Linked DNA regions of Homo sapiens. The protein of the gene in region 2 purifies or fractionates together with the protein of the main gene of each other region. This does not show direct contact. Each region holds a gene or a part of one and is shown on either strand. Other genes may lie near its edges.

Region 1 (3,500 bases), on a different chromosome or scaffold from region 2:
CTTGTAATGAGAAAAGCCTCACAAGGACCTGGCCTTCCTGCTTTTCAAAAAGACTGAACAAAACCTTAGGTAGAAAAGGTTAGGTCTAAAAGGCTGCTTACTAAGGAGGGACTGGTATTTGGGCACCTAAACCCAAAGATCACTTATAATGTTAAGTCATTCATTGCAGTCAAGATTAAGTTCCTGACAGGCTCTGGCAAAACCTTTCACAGAAATGCTCCCTTATCTCCTGGGACCTCTCAAGCACCAGATACCAAGCAGTACGTCTCCCGTCCAGGCTTGTGGTGAGGGGCAAAGAAAAAAAAAAAGCTTAGCCAGCAAAGTAAGTAGGTCTGACCTGTCTCTAACCAGTCAAAATTGGACTATAACTTCAAAAATGACTTTTTGAAGAGAATCTGTTTGGGTGCTTCCCAACCAGACTGATGGGTGGAATGATTTCCTCACAATGGAAAGGCCTCAGGGAGAACCAAACCCAGGGTGTCTCCTGCTGGAGGGTAGAAGTTTGCAATTCCTTCTAGCAAGCCAATGACAAGCCCATGGTAGGGAAAGAAATGCACCATCGAGCCTCTGCCACCTACCTTGGAACACCTGGGCAAGTCACTTAGCTTCTGGCTAAAGTGTCATAAACTGCAAAATTGAGGGTAAGGGTAGTAGCCGAGTGGCTGAGGAATCTTGACTGTGGCACCTTTAGCCACCCACTTCTTCAAGGTCAAGGATTTACAGGGTGACAGAAGCTGCTTTTTGGTCAATTAAGGGGTGCAAAGGAGAGCCAACCGCACAGTGCAGGGGTAATGGGGGCCTTCTGCACTGTGGATGGGACGTCAAAGAAGCTTGTTTTGAGAGTCTTACATTCTTTTAATCCTTGGGGCAACGTCAGGAAGTAGACAGTTCTCATCATCCCTACTGCACAGAAAGGAAAGTGAAGCTAACTTTTCCAAGGCCACACAAGCATCCCTGCCCCTTAACCTCTATTCTACCAACCTCTACTGAGTCAATTAGAGGAGAAGGGAGCCATTTGCTTCCACTCCAAGGACCCTCCTCTGTACTAGGCCAGCTTTCCTTCTAGAAGATTCTTCATGCAAATAGGGGATGTAACAGGGAACCACAGACCTCTGCTCAAAACCCCACTACCCAAATCCCAAACTGCCTGATCCCAACTCCCCTGATGGACAAGGACAGACACTTATTTGCAAACCACATCCCCAATCAGGTGCCATGACCATAGTAGTTGGCTGCCAGCTCTGGGCTCTGCTGCACTATCGCTGCAACCTGCCCAACAGCCTGGCTGGGGTCCTAGCTGAAGGTCCCAGCCTCTCTGGAACTCCGACCTCTCCTGCACAGGCTTCCAGAATCAATCCAGCTATGACAGTCAAGTTTCCATGTAACTTTTGAGCAACCTGCACTTTGGAGTTCATTACAGGCAAATTTTTTTTTTTTTTCTTTCTGAGATGAAGTTTTGCTCTTGTTGCCCAGGCTGGAGTGCAATGGCGCCATCTTGGCTCACTGGCTCACTGCAACCTCCTCCTCCCAGGTTCAAGCCATTCTCCTGTCTCAGCCTCTGGAGTAGCTGGGATTACAGGCATGGGCCACCATGCCCAGCTAATTTTGTATTTTTAGTAGAGATGGGGTTTCACCATGTTAGTCAGGCTGGTCTCCAACTCCTGATCTCAGGTGATCCTCCTGCCTGGGCCTCCCAAAGTCCTAGGATTACAGGCATGAGCCACCACGCCCTGCCCAGACAAATCTTTTTAAGCACAAAAGGGCCTACATGTATTTAATCTACAGGACAAAGTAAAAGTCTTATCCATGTTAACTTAGTAACCAAGAAGACCTGCCCTTCACTATGGTAAGCAAATTATTTTCACAAAAACAGTTCTTCTAGCCCTGTAGCTAAATGTACAGCCAAGGTTCCAAACTTTTATCTTTGATCACTAGGATAAATTCTAATTTTAAGTCTCAAGATTATAAGCCAGCTCCCAAAGGTACAGCCTGGATAAACACAAACATCACTTTTTTATTCAATGAGTACTTTCTAAGTACCTATTTATTAAAACTTACCATGTACCAACAACTTCTCTAAATGCTTTATAGGTATTAAACTCATTTAATTCTAACAACCTTATGAGTTAGGTGACATTACTACCCCAATATACAGAAGCTAAGGCACAGAGGTAAATTGCATGACCCAGTGATGCACAGAGGAGGCAGCACCGTGCTTAGGCTCTGGAGCTACCATCCACAGCGAGCTTACAAATATACCCAACTTGCCCTGCACTTGGCCAGCAAACACTCGCAGCACCTACTCAAACCATCTGCCTCTTCACAACCAGTCTCTTTAGAAAGGAGACTTAATCAAGAAAAATGCCACCAATGGAGAGAGCAGGCTTAATTATAGCAAACTAAGGGAAGGAAAAACCAAACAAATCATATAAATGTAGTAAGCCCCCCTTTGAAAGGCCCACTTATAGAACAACTATGCTTTCTTGCCTACAAAGCAAGGTGGGTCTTCCAACACTAATGCACATCCTTCTCCCACTTTGCATAATCTTTTAAAAGACACCACCCTTCTGCCCAGGGCAGGGTCAGGTTCCTCTACTCAGGAGCCTCCACTCGGTCAGCTTCTCACAGGGCCATTGCCATTGACCCCCCAAAGCAGTAAGTTAGTAACTGGTGAGGACAAAGGTCTATGGCACAGGCTGTGTTTTTGGTCAGGAGCTATTTCCCTCACAACATTGGCAGGCTTAAGGCTCCACCTCCTTCAAGTCTTTGCCCGTAAGTCACTTTTACAAAGACTATGACTCCCATATTTAAAATTGCAGCCACCATACCACAGAAACTCCTGTCCCTCTTTTCTGCTCTGGTGTTCTCTTTGTGCTTCCCACCAGCTCACAATGTGTTTCACCTATTTAAATGTCTGTCTCTACCCATCAGTATGCAAGTTTCATGAGGGTAGGGATTTGGGCTGTTTTGTTCACTATTAGACTCTCAGAGCTTTGAAGATTGCCTGGCTTAGGGGACACATACAGCTACTTGTTGAGTAAGTGAATAAATACCCACAAAGAACAGATACTTGTCTCTAACTCTCAGACCTTCCCCCGGTTGTCAAATTCAGGCTGCAAACTTAGAATTCCCCGTGAGGGAGAAAAGGGGCTGTTACTTCCAAAGAAAGATAATTTGGCAACTAAATCCATCATGTAAGTACCCAGTTTCCCACAGAGTAGAGCAGGTAGAGAAGGAATCTGGAATGCTGAACTTTGTTGATGTCCGAGCTCCCAGGAAGGCATAAAAGGAGAATAATAATAGAAGAGGACGAGTCAGGGATAGCATTCTCAGCAGGGTGGGAAACATGCTAATGAGAGGAAGACTGTAAAGAAAAAGCAAAGCGCCAGCGGGGGCGCAGTGGCTCACACCTGTAATCCTAGCACTTTAGGAGGTGGAGGTGGACAGATCACTTGAGGTCAGGAGTTCAAGACCAGCTTGACCAACATGGCGAAACCCCA
Region 2 (3,500 bases):
CAGCACCTTGCTCTTGGGCTTCTCAGCTTCCAGAACTGTGAGAAATAAATTTCTGTTGTTTATAAGCCACCAGTCCATAGTATTTTGTTATCCAGTCCAGAAAGACTAAGTAAGCCAGTTACTGAGGGGAGGAGCTGGAATTTGAACGGAAGTGTATCCGACCCCAAAGCTGGTTCTCTCAACTCTGCTGCTTAGAGGCTGCTGGTGCCATGGAATGTTTGAACGGGCAGTGGGGAGAGACCAACTCAGACCTTAATATAAGGCATTTGTGTTTTAAAAAAATCACTGCCCAGGCAGGCTGTCACGTGAGACACAAGAGGGCTGGGGTGCGGGTAGGAGGACCGTCCCTTCCTATTTCTGTGTAACACGCGAGGACCCCCACATGGCACTGGGTGTGAGGGGCAGAGGGGCCCTCAGGTTCCCCCACTCTGTCACTGAGTTCCCTGCTAGGAATCAGGTGCTAGGCTTTCCTGGCCACAAGCCAGCACCCTGCCTGAAGTTCCTGCATCCCACATCTGCCCTTCACAGACCCAGATGGCCCAGTCGCCTCAGGCCCTCAAGCAGGACCTGCCGGGGAGGTGGGGGCACGTGTGCTGGATGCTTGGCAGGAGGAGCCCTGTGGAGCTGGGGCTCCTAGAGGGGTCGCTGCCCACTCACCCTGGAGCCCGAAGCCTGGGAGAGAGGCACTCTTGGGAGAAAATCCCTTCCTCCCCCTCTCCTCCAGGCTGTCCAGCACCTGCTTCTTCCTGCTCCTCACCCTGATGGGACCACCCATCTCTCTCTGCTGATGGGACCAAGAGGGAGGTGCAAACCTCTGAACCTCCGAGCATCTGGAAGTGTGAGCCGAGGGAGCTGACACTGCCAGGCCCTTGGGGTCCCCAGGCAGGAGGGAAGTTGACGGAGTCTAGCTGCAGAGCCATGGAGTCCTGCGGACGGGAGCCCTCTTGCCTCGCAAGACTTACAGCATGTCTCTGGCCTCAGTTTCCTGATGCATGTAATGGAAAGAGTACCTCCCGCCCTGGGGAAGGTGGTGGAATAATGAAGTCTAGAGCATTGGGGTACAGGGCTATGGAGGAGCAGCACCCCCAAACGGGGTGAAAGGTTCTTAACCCTCAGCCCTCACAGCTGCAGAAGGGACCAAGGAGAAAGCTCCCCTCCCCGACCCTGGGCATGCACACTGGAGCTTGGTTTGATGTGCCATGGAGTAGAATCCCAGGATTCGTCCAGAAAACAAGGCTACCACTTGCTACTAAATCAACCCAACAGGTCTGTTCACCCCGGGTTCCGGAAAGAGAGCCCAGCGCCAGGGGGTAGCACTGTCTAGGGCCTGGTTAGGTGTTTTGGAAAAGTCCATGGGTCCCCGCCCGGCTGCTGTACAGATGTGCCCTGCTGATACCCTGGGCCTCAGCAGAACCTCGAGCCTCTCTCTCTCTGCCTGCCTTTCCCTCAGGTTCTGCATCTGTACTAGGCTTCCTGTGCCAACGAGAATATATAAAACCATCCTCCCCAAACACAAGCTGACACTGGGGGCTAAACCTGCCTGACAGTCCCAAGGAGCCTGGTGACCTGGGAGGAGCTCCTCAGATGCAGGGACCATTGCAGGCTGCGGCGCCCGTCCCAGGTGCATCCTGGGCTACCCTGGGAAGGGCTGGGGAACAGCAAGAGCCAGATCTGTGGTAAGGACACTCATTTTAGAGACGTGATGGATTCATTTAATATCTTTTCGCTACAATTGCTTTGCAGTGCCTGCTCTTAATGGCCTCCAAAGTTCCATCCAAATATCTTTTGCTGGCAGTTTAGCTCTCTGGCTGGCATTTTTGCTGGCAGAACTAACAGCTGGATGCCTCCTTGAATGGGAAACTTTCATTGTCTTGTCTTCTCTCTTCTGAGTTTCCAGTGACTGCCCCAGGTCTGAGGCTGGAGCAGGGCTCTGACTGTGACACCCCTGCGTGGAGCCCAGTGGCTGACTTTCAGGAAGGACAGGTGAGTGTGGGGGAGTGGAGGCCTGTGCCTGACTAGGTGAGGGCCCAGGCCCAAGCTCCAAGGAAGAAAAGGGGATGTGAGGAAGCAGGGTATTTGTTGCCTGAGGCCCACCTCCAACACTTTGGGCAGAACACCTTAGCTCCAGATGCACAAAACTCACAGGCTCTGGGCTGTGCAGCCCCCTGGGAACACTAACTAGCTGGCCTCAGAGTCTGTGGACCTCTGCATGTGCCCTGGGTCAGAAGGCATGACCTGTCTAACTGCCACATGGCGTGTCTGTGCCATGCTGCCATCCTTCTCAGGGTCCTCTCTTCCCTAGCATTCTGGCACACACCGGACAGAACCCCTTGACTGCTGCAGGGGTGGTTGGCCTGCTGGGACATGTATTTGAACGCTGACATAGCAGGGTTCTGGTAACACCACTGCCACACCCTCGTCAGTGGCTGGTACAACAGCCTCTGCTAGGATGATGGACCTCATCATCCATGAGGCAGCCCCTCCTCCTGTCCTGACCACCCTCTCCTCGACAGGAGCCCTGAATGCCTGCTCACTGGCGGCCTTGCATTCTTCCCCCGGGGCTGGCTCCATCCCTCCCCAGGAGCTGAGACCTCTACTTCTCCCCACCTTTCTGGATCCCAGACACATCATCAGCAAGATCCACTCTAGTGGAATAGAAAAAGTCTTCTTGTCTAGCTTGGGCCTGGTGACCGGTGGCAAGTGACAGGCCTCCTGCTTCTGGGAACTGACCTCTGATGGTGGCTATTGGACATGTAAATGTCTGCCTGGGGTCAAAAGTCTACACTAATGAGAAGATCACCTGAAGAACAGGGCCTCCCAGGTGCCTCCCCTACCCTTTGCCCCAGAATCTCCGTTTCATCTCTGGCACTCATCATGACTCCCTTCTTTGGCCTAAGACATGAAGTTACCTGGGACAAAAAGAACTTCAATCAATCAATTTATAAATTAGTTAGATCTCTTCAACAGAGAGTGGCCTGGTCCCCAAGAGTGGCCTGGGTGCTGTGTGCAAAGTTTATCCTCGGGAAGCACTTGACTGACAAGCGTGGGCTGGGCTGTGGTTTCAGGTCTAGCAGAATGCAGGGGGATGGCAGGAGGCACCCAAATAGCACAATAGGAGCAAAGCGGGGACCTGCCCAGCCTCCCAATGTGTCAGGCCAGGCCGCCTCTCCCAAGCCATCAAGTTACCCAGTGGCTGCTGCCTGCTCCTGCATGGGCCCCTTGGTAGCACGGGGGTGGGGGTTCAGCCTGGGTAGCAAGAGTGCTGGGCAGGCAGCTGGGGATCCCTGGGCTGGAAACTGACTCTGCCATTAGTTAGCTGTGTGGCCTCAGGACCCACTTTCCTTCTCTGGACCTCTGTTTCCCGCTCTAAAATTATGGGGGCTGGACGAAACATCCTCCGGGGACTCCCTTTGGCTTGAATGTGCTACAGCAATCTGAGATGGCCAGCTCTTTCCTGGGGCAGCCTTTTCCTCCTCAGAGCTCCTCTTTGCTGATCTGAG
Region 3 (3,500 bases), on a different chromosome or scaffold from region 2:
CCACAAGTAAGTGTGCTAATTAGTCAAGGAAGGCTTCTGTTAGCTAGGATACTATCTTAAATGGTACTTGTCCATGTATATCGCAAACTATAATTTCCCACATAATGTAGTGGTGAAACTTTGTATACGTTTTGGTGAGCCTTCTAATTATCAAGCAGAAGTAATGACTAGGCCTTGTGTTACCATCTTAGATTCCATCCTGACAGTTCATGCATATTATTAACTAAATGTGATTTAATCAGTTGCCTCTCATACCCCAGCTAGGCCAGGTTATCTCCTTTGTTGTGTGAAGTCCCAGAAATAACTGCATACTATGATGGCCTGTTAACCCCTCAAATCTGGGTATGGCCAGACCTGCTAGATCTGCCAAGGGAATGGGACTGTTTTATCTACATGAAGAAGATGGGAGAAGGGTATGGGAGTGTTGAATGATTGGGAGTTGTGGTTAGAATAAATTGAGCTTTTCTTTCTTTCTCAGTCCTCAGCAGCTGAGAATCCCCAGATAAACCTAGGAACAGGCTAGGTTGAAAACATACATTTATAATATAGACTAAGTTTATAGGACTTGGGCCTGACAATATGGCATGGCTGCTCAGTTGATTTCTGTGCTGTGGGGCACTGGCACTGACATAGTTTAACATACTTCGTGTATATCTCTGTTATAACAACAGAATTTCCCTTTCAGGGTGGGAAAAATAGGACCTGCTACATCCTTCCCTCCTCTCCCAATTTAATTCGTTTAATTAGATAATGACCACTTAATGATATTAAGCTAATTTTATAATAAAGTCAACAAATGTACTTTTTAAATCTCTTTTTATTACTTGACATTTAGCAACTTCTACTACACCAGCTACCAACACCACTTGTACAGCCACGGTTCCACCACAGCCACAGTACAGCTACCACGACATCAATGTCTATTCCCTTGCGGGCTTGGCACCACACATTACTCTGAATCCAACAGTAAGTAAACACTGCTCCATTCTCCCAGCTTCTAGTTTGTGATAAGGTAAATTTTGTTTGGCCACCTTTTCTTCAGCTCTTTGCCCTTCCCTCTGGATTCCTAGGTTGTAGAGTTTGTCAGAGAGGATGGAGATCTAGAACTGCTGTGTAGTTCAGTTGGGATTGTTCTTCTTCCCTTAAGAGATAGAGTGACTAGATGTTAGTTATATTGGTTCCTCATATCCAAACCCATGATACTAAAATTTAGCTAGCAATAAAATCACAATCTCCAGGAATTCCTTACACAGAGTAAAAGATGCTTAATGTATATCATAGCTTTTTATTTTCTTTATCTTGTCACTTTAGCCTTCTGCAGTAAGCCATTTCTTCCACCTGAAGGCTGGAAATGAGCTGATTGTGGGTGTGTATACAATTTCTAGGCTAAGATCTTGAAGTAGGACTTAGCACTTTGAGTTATGTTGTTGTGGCCTGGTTCCAGAAGGAGGTCTGATACAATATGGTCATGTAAGATGACCTCTGATCAGTCCTTTTTCCTATAGTTAGTATTTGCTTTGTACATTCAAGGGGACATTTTATTGTTATCTTTAGTCTTTTATTCTACTTAACAGAATATATAATACAGAATCAGGTGAGTGGAGTTTTCATTGTCCTTACTTTTTAGAAACTGAAAATGTTCACAAATACAAGAGTAACATTAATACATTGAACTTTTTATTAAAAGGAATTGAAAGGGTATCAGAGAAATCATTTTATCCTTGTCCCCCCATCCCCACTCCTATAGACATGGTACTTAGTTTTAGAGGGGTGGAGTGAGAGGCAGTGGGACACCTAGATCCAGAAATTGTGATTCATCTTTAGAATACTCTTAGTGTTGTGAACACTATTATATGCTAGTTTAATTTTTTTTTTTTTTAATTCAACAAGTTAAAGGGACCAAGTAAGTTTTGGGGCATAATTTACACCTGCAATAAAAGATTAGAAACAGCCTTTCAAATGAAGCCAAATACTTCAGTGGGCACTGTAAAATGCTCACTATTCTGATGAATTAATTTTAATAGTTTTTGTAAGAAGTCTTTTTTCTATAAACTTTATTCTTTTTACATTTTCCCAAGCTAGTGGAGAAGTTGCTTTCTTTTAAGAGCACTTGAGCCACAAATTTTAAATAAGCCAGCAGTGTGTCTTTAAGTAGTTAATGCATATTGTAATGAACAGTTTGTCCATTAAACTTGGATTTAAAAAAAAGACATATCTATTATTGTGTATCACAGGGTATACTGAATACATTTCCCTGTATGGAGCTCAGTTTCTGTTACCCGAATTTTCCATTGGTTAACTTTAAGTAGAAACTGGTAGTTTTTGGTTAATCTTGATTTACAAAATCATGAATGTGATTGCCAGTAGGAATTGGATTGTCTTATTTAAACAAGGTGTTGACTTTGTCCTCCCCAACCCCCCAGATTCCCTTGTTTCAGGCCCATCCACAGTTGAAGCAGTGTGTGCGTCAGGCAATTGAACGGGCTGTCCAGGAGCTGGTCCATCCTGTGGTGGATCGATCAATTAAGATTGCCATGACTACTTGTGAGCAAATAGTCAGGAAGGATTTTGCCCTGGATTCGGAGGAATCTCGAATGCGAATAGCAGCTCATCACATGATGCGTAACTTGACAGCTGGAATGGCTATGATTACATGCAGGGAACCTTTGCTCATGAGCATATCTACCAACTTAAAAAACAGTTTTGCCTCAGCCCTTCGTGTAAGTTGGCTATTTCCTTGGTATAGGTACAAAACGTATTACTGCTTGTCTGTAATAATTTTTTTCTTTGTCTATATATGGCACTGGGCGTTACCACTTATTCTTAATAATCACCATATTTGTTTGATGTCTTCCATCATTTTAGATTGTAATTCTGTGAGGCAAAGCATCATGTCTGTGTGTTTTTTTTTTTTTCTGTTATATTCTCAACACGATGTTTGACAGATAGTAGATACCCAAATATTTGTTGGTTTAAATAAATTAAGATTTAAAAAGGAAATGTGATATCTGACAATCTCATTTCTGTTAACCAGGAAGGATGAAAGCTGTTTGAGAAGGCCGATACAAAATGACTTAAAGTGATGTTGCATGTGCACACACTTTTCAAATAATTCACTTACTAGTTTTGAGTCTCAGATATCATGGTTAATAATTCAGGTATCATGATTAATAATTTGTTTACTGCTTTAATGATTTTTTTTGGTTGTTTTTTGCCTTTTTTTTAATGTTTCATGAGACAGGGTCTCACTCTGTAGCTTAGGCTAGAGTACAGTGGTGCAGTCTTGGCTCACTGCATCCTCCACCTCTGAGGTTCAACTGATTCTCGTGCTTCAGCCTCCCAAGTAGCTGGGATTACAGGCATGTGCTACCACGCCCCACTAATTTATGTATTTTTTTAGTAGAGAAGTGGCTTCACCATGTTGGCTAGGCTGGTCTCAAACTCCTGGCCTCAAGTGATCTACCTGCCTTGGCCTCCCAAAGTGCTGGGATTAGAGGTGT
Region 4 (3,500 bases), on a different chromosome or scaffold from region 2:
GAGTGTTTTTTATTCTGTCATTCCAGCGGCTTCATATACAGATAGCTCTGATGATGAGACATCGCCCAGGGACAAGCAGCAAAAGAACTCTAAGGGAAGCAGTGACTTCTGTGTTAAGAACATCAAACAGGCAGAGTTTGGACGAAGAGAAATTGAAATTGCTGAACAAGGTAAAGAAAACAAGCACCTTTTCCTTCTTAACCTACCTGTGTCTTTTTGTCCATATTAATCCCTTTTTATGTCTGGGGTCTGGTAGCTTGTGAAATTTCTATGTGATAAGAATACTTATAACAAAAGAAATGTGAGTTCAAGAAACACTGGGGAAATCTGGCAAGTCTAGAAGGAACCCTGTATTAAAAAAAAAAAAAAAAAAGGGAGAGAGACTGGATAAGGACTGGAATATAGAGAATCAGAACCCTGGAGCATTTGCCTCCAAAAGCCCTTTATAAAGGAAAATACAGGTTTAATGTCTTGATCCCTGGAGAAACCTAATCTAACCTGATCAGGGGAAGGATCTTAACTTAAGAAAACAAGTTTTTCTGTTTGTTCTTTTATCTCTTATTCCTTCTTCTTTAATATTGCTGTATTTATTGGGCCTTTTCAGAAATGCCTGCATTGATGGCTTTGAGGAAGAGAGCTCAAGGAGAAAAGCCTTTGGCTGGAGCCAAAATCGTGGGTTGCACACACATCACTGCTCAGACTGCTGTGAGTTCTTTTCTTTTCTCCTTTTAATTACAATAGTTAATAATAGCCACGAGCTACTGAAAGCTTACAACATGCCAAGCACCGAGTTAAGAGCTTAACAAGTATTAGCTTATTAATCCTTATAATGGCCATATAAAGCAGGTATTCTTGTTTCCATTTTATAAACGAAGAAGCTGAGGCTCAGAGGGCTTAAGATATTTGTTTAAGGTTATACAGCTAGAAATCACAGAGTCAAGATTTTAACTTCAATATACAGTAGTCCCCCTGCCTTGTCTGTGGGGGATAAGTTTCAAGACCCCTAGTGGACACCTGAAACTTCAGACAGTACTGAACCCTATATATACTATGTTTTTTCCTATACATATATACCTATAATCAAGTTTAATTTATGCAATTGGCCCTGCATGTCCACCAGTTCTGCTTCCTGAGGATTTGACCAACTGCAGATCAAAAATATTCAGAAAATAAAATAATACAACAATACAAAATAACAAGAAATATAACAACTATTTACATAGCATTTACACTGTATTGGGTACTATAAATAACCTAGAGATGCTTTAAAATATACAGAAGGATGTGCACAGATTATATGCAAACACTGCATCATTTTATATAAGGGACATGAGCATCCTCAGATTTTGGTATCCATGGGAGTGCTGGAATAAATCCCCTGAGGATACTGAGAGACAGCTATAAATTCAGCACAGTAAGAAATGAACAACAGTAACTCAAAATAAAAGAGAGCAATTACAACAACAGACTGTAATAAAAGTTATGTCACATAAAGGAATTTATCACAGTACATAGCAGAAAGTCCAAAGGGAAGGCAGACTTCAGATGCAGGATCTCAGGGCTCCAGCTTCACCTCTCTGATTCTCTTGGAGCTGCCTCCTCAGTATGCTTACTTCACCCTAAAGCTGATAGCAAGATGCTTACAACTATTCTAGTCATCACAAACTGACATGAAAAGGAAGAGGGACCATTTCTTCCTCACTCAAGAGAAGTCCCTCCAGGATACTCCATCGTGTCTCATTGGGCAGAACTGGATCATGTATCTGTGCTCCACCAGTCCTACCGAGGGGCGTGGAATTACCATGATTTGCTTACACCAGTGATTCCTACCTTACTCTCATCAGTTTTAATGTCCCCTTTTTATTAAAAAACTTTTTTTTTGCAGTGTCCCTGAACTATCCTGAAATGAAATTCAGATATAACATGTCCAGGTACATATAATCTTTAAAAATAAATCAATATAAAATCTTAACTGAAATATGAAGGAGGAATAAAAAAAGTACAATACTTAAAATAATGTGTATTTCAATATGTAAATACTTGAGGACAACTATAGTAGAACAATCAGATATTTGTACTATTTCACAGTATTATTTGAAATAGTATTATTTGAAGACAGAAATAAATGTGTTATTGATTCCAGAGCATCAGAGCAGCATTGCCATGATTTTCTGAAATAGTAAACAACTTTTTGTAATCTTCTAAACAATAAGAACAACAAAAAGTATGAGTTTTCTCTTCATTTACATAGCTGTTACATTCCTGGAAAAACTATTGTTTTGTATTAAAACTACAAAACTACTTTTTGCTAATTTGTAAAGTGGAATTAGGTTCTAAACTCAGATAATTGTAGATAGGTTTTTCACCCATGGGAACTTTTATTGGGACATTTGAAAATTGTACCAGCTGCAACACAGTTTTTTGTTGAGACACTTTCAAAATGTCCAGATTCCTGGTCCTGCCCACTAAATGCCAATAGCACTCCCCTTCCAATTATTGTGGCAACCAAAAATGCCCCCACAATTTTCTAGATCTCCTCTTTTATCACCAGAGATGCAATATATATGGAGTTGCTAACCATAATGAGACCACTATCGGGAAATTGTTATATTGAGCAGTGGTCTGGAATCTTTTATGGGGATTCATAAGATCTGGGTCATCTGTGTGGCTAGATCAGCTTTCCAAAGATTGTCTCTCCCAAAGCACAACACTTATGTGGTCACATTCCTGATTAAGAACATTAGAGATTCCTCAAGGTACAGACAGCTTCTATTAGCATCTTCACTATGAAACTTTTCTGGGTTATGTGTTCTCTGAGGACAAGAGTACCCTGACTGCTCAAAATTAATATAATAAATTGAAAAGCTATCTGTTTTGGAGCTACAAACTAATGAATCAAGACAGAAACACTCTTGAATCTTTTTTGGCCTGCTCAGTCAGCGACATGAGACTTCAGTGTGGTAGCTTAAAATAGTAAGTGCTTCTCTACTGTCTCATGTTGCTGAATTACATCTAGTTTGTTTTTTACCCTTAGGCTCAGTGAGCATTACCACCTTTCATGGTTCCCTTTCTATTTTTTTCCTGAATGGATTGATCACAATTAGCTTACCAATTTTAATATTAATTTATTGTTTCCACCCCACATTTTTTTCCTTTAAAAAAATAACGACAAAGAAATTATGCTTTGTTTGCCAACCTAATACTCTTTCACTCTTGTCTTAGTTCATTTGGGCTGCTATAACAAAATACCTTAGACTGGGTAATTAATAAACAATAGATATTTATTGTTCACAGTTCTGGAGGCTAGGAAGTCCAAGATCAAGGCGCCAGCAGATTCAGTATCTGGTGAGGGCCTGTTCCTTATAGATGGCGCTTTCTATGTGCCCTCACATGGCCAAAGGGGCAAGCAAGCTTCCTCAGGCTTGTTTTATAAGTACACTAATCCCATTTGTGAGGGCAGAAATCTCATGTCTAATCACCTTCCAATCACTTCCATAATC

Evidence for each region. Proteins that work in one complex are often made in the same cells at the same time.
Region 1: the proteins of PAK6 (region 2) and MTHFD1 purify together in Homo sapiens (affinity purification with mass spectrometry, with the first as the bait; one large-scale study listed by BioGRID). This does not show direct contact.
Region 3: the proteins of PAK6 (region 2) and CNOT1 purify together in Homo sapiens (affinity purification with mass spectrometry, with the first as the bait; one large-scale study listed by BioGRID). This does not show direct contact.
Region 4: the proteins of PAK6 (region 2) and AHCYL2 purify together in Homo sapiens (affinity purification with mass spectrometry, with the first as the bait; one large-scale study listed by BioGRID). This does not show direct contact.

Annotation. Positions count from the first base shown.
Region 1 is NC_000014.9:64,391,353-64,394,852, reverse strand, and holds part of MTHFD1 (C-1-tetrahydrofolate synthase, cytoplasmic), read right to left. Parts: intron 1-3,500. UniProt on the Homo sapiens protein: Trifunctional enzyme that catalyzes the interconversion of three forms of one-carbon-substituted tetrahydrofolate: (6R)-5,10-methylene-5,6,7,8-tetrahydrofolate, 5,10-methenyltetrahydrofolate and (6S)-10-formyltetrahydrofolate.
Region 2 is NC_000015.10:40,245,563-40,249,062, reverse strand, and holds part of PAK6 (serine/threonine-protein kinase PAK 6), read right to left. Parts: intron 1-3,500. UniProt on the Homo sapiens protein: Serine/threonine protein kinase that plays a role in the regulation of gene transcription. The kinase activity is induced by various effectors including AR or MAP2K6/MAPKK6.
Region 3 is NC_000016.10:58,542,827-58,546,326, reverse strand, and holds part of CNOT1 (CCR4-NOT transcription complex subunit 1), read left to right. Parts: coding exon 1-6; intron 7-835; coding exon 836-966; intron 967-2,423; coding exon 2,424-2,720; coding exon of another isoform or gene 2,721-2,942; exon of another isoform or gene 2,943-3,174; intron 3,175-3,500.
Region 4 is NC_000007.14:129,389,030-129,392,529, forward strand, and holds part of AHCYL2 (adenosylhomocysteinase 3), read left to right. Parts: intron 1-26; coding exon 27-170; intron 171-604; coding exon 605-705; intron 706-3,500. UniProt on the Homo sapiens protein: May regulate the electrogenic sodium/bicarbonate cotransporter SLC4A4 activity and Mg(2+)-sensitivity. On the contrary of its homolog AHCYL1, does not regulate ITPR1 sensitivity to inositol 1,4,5-trisphosphate.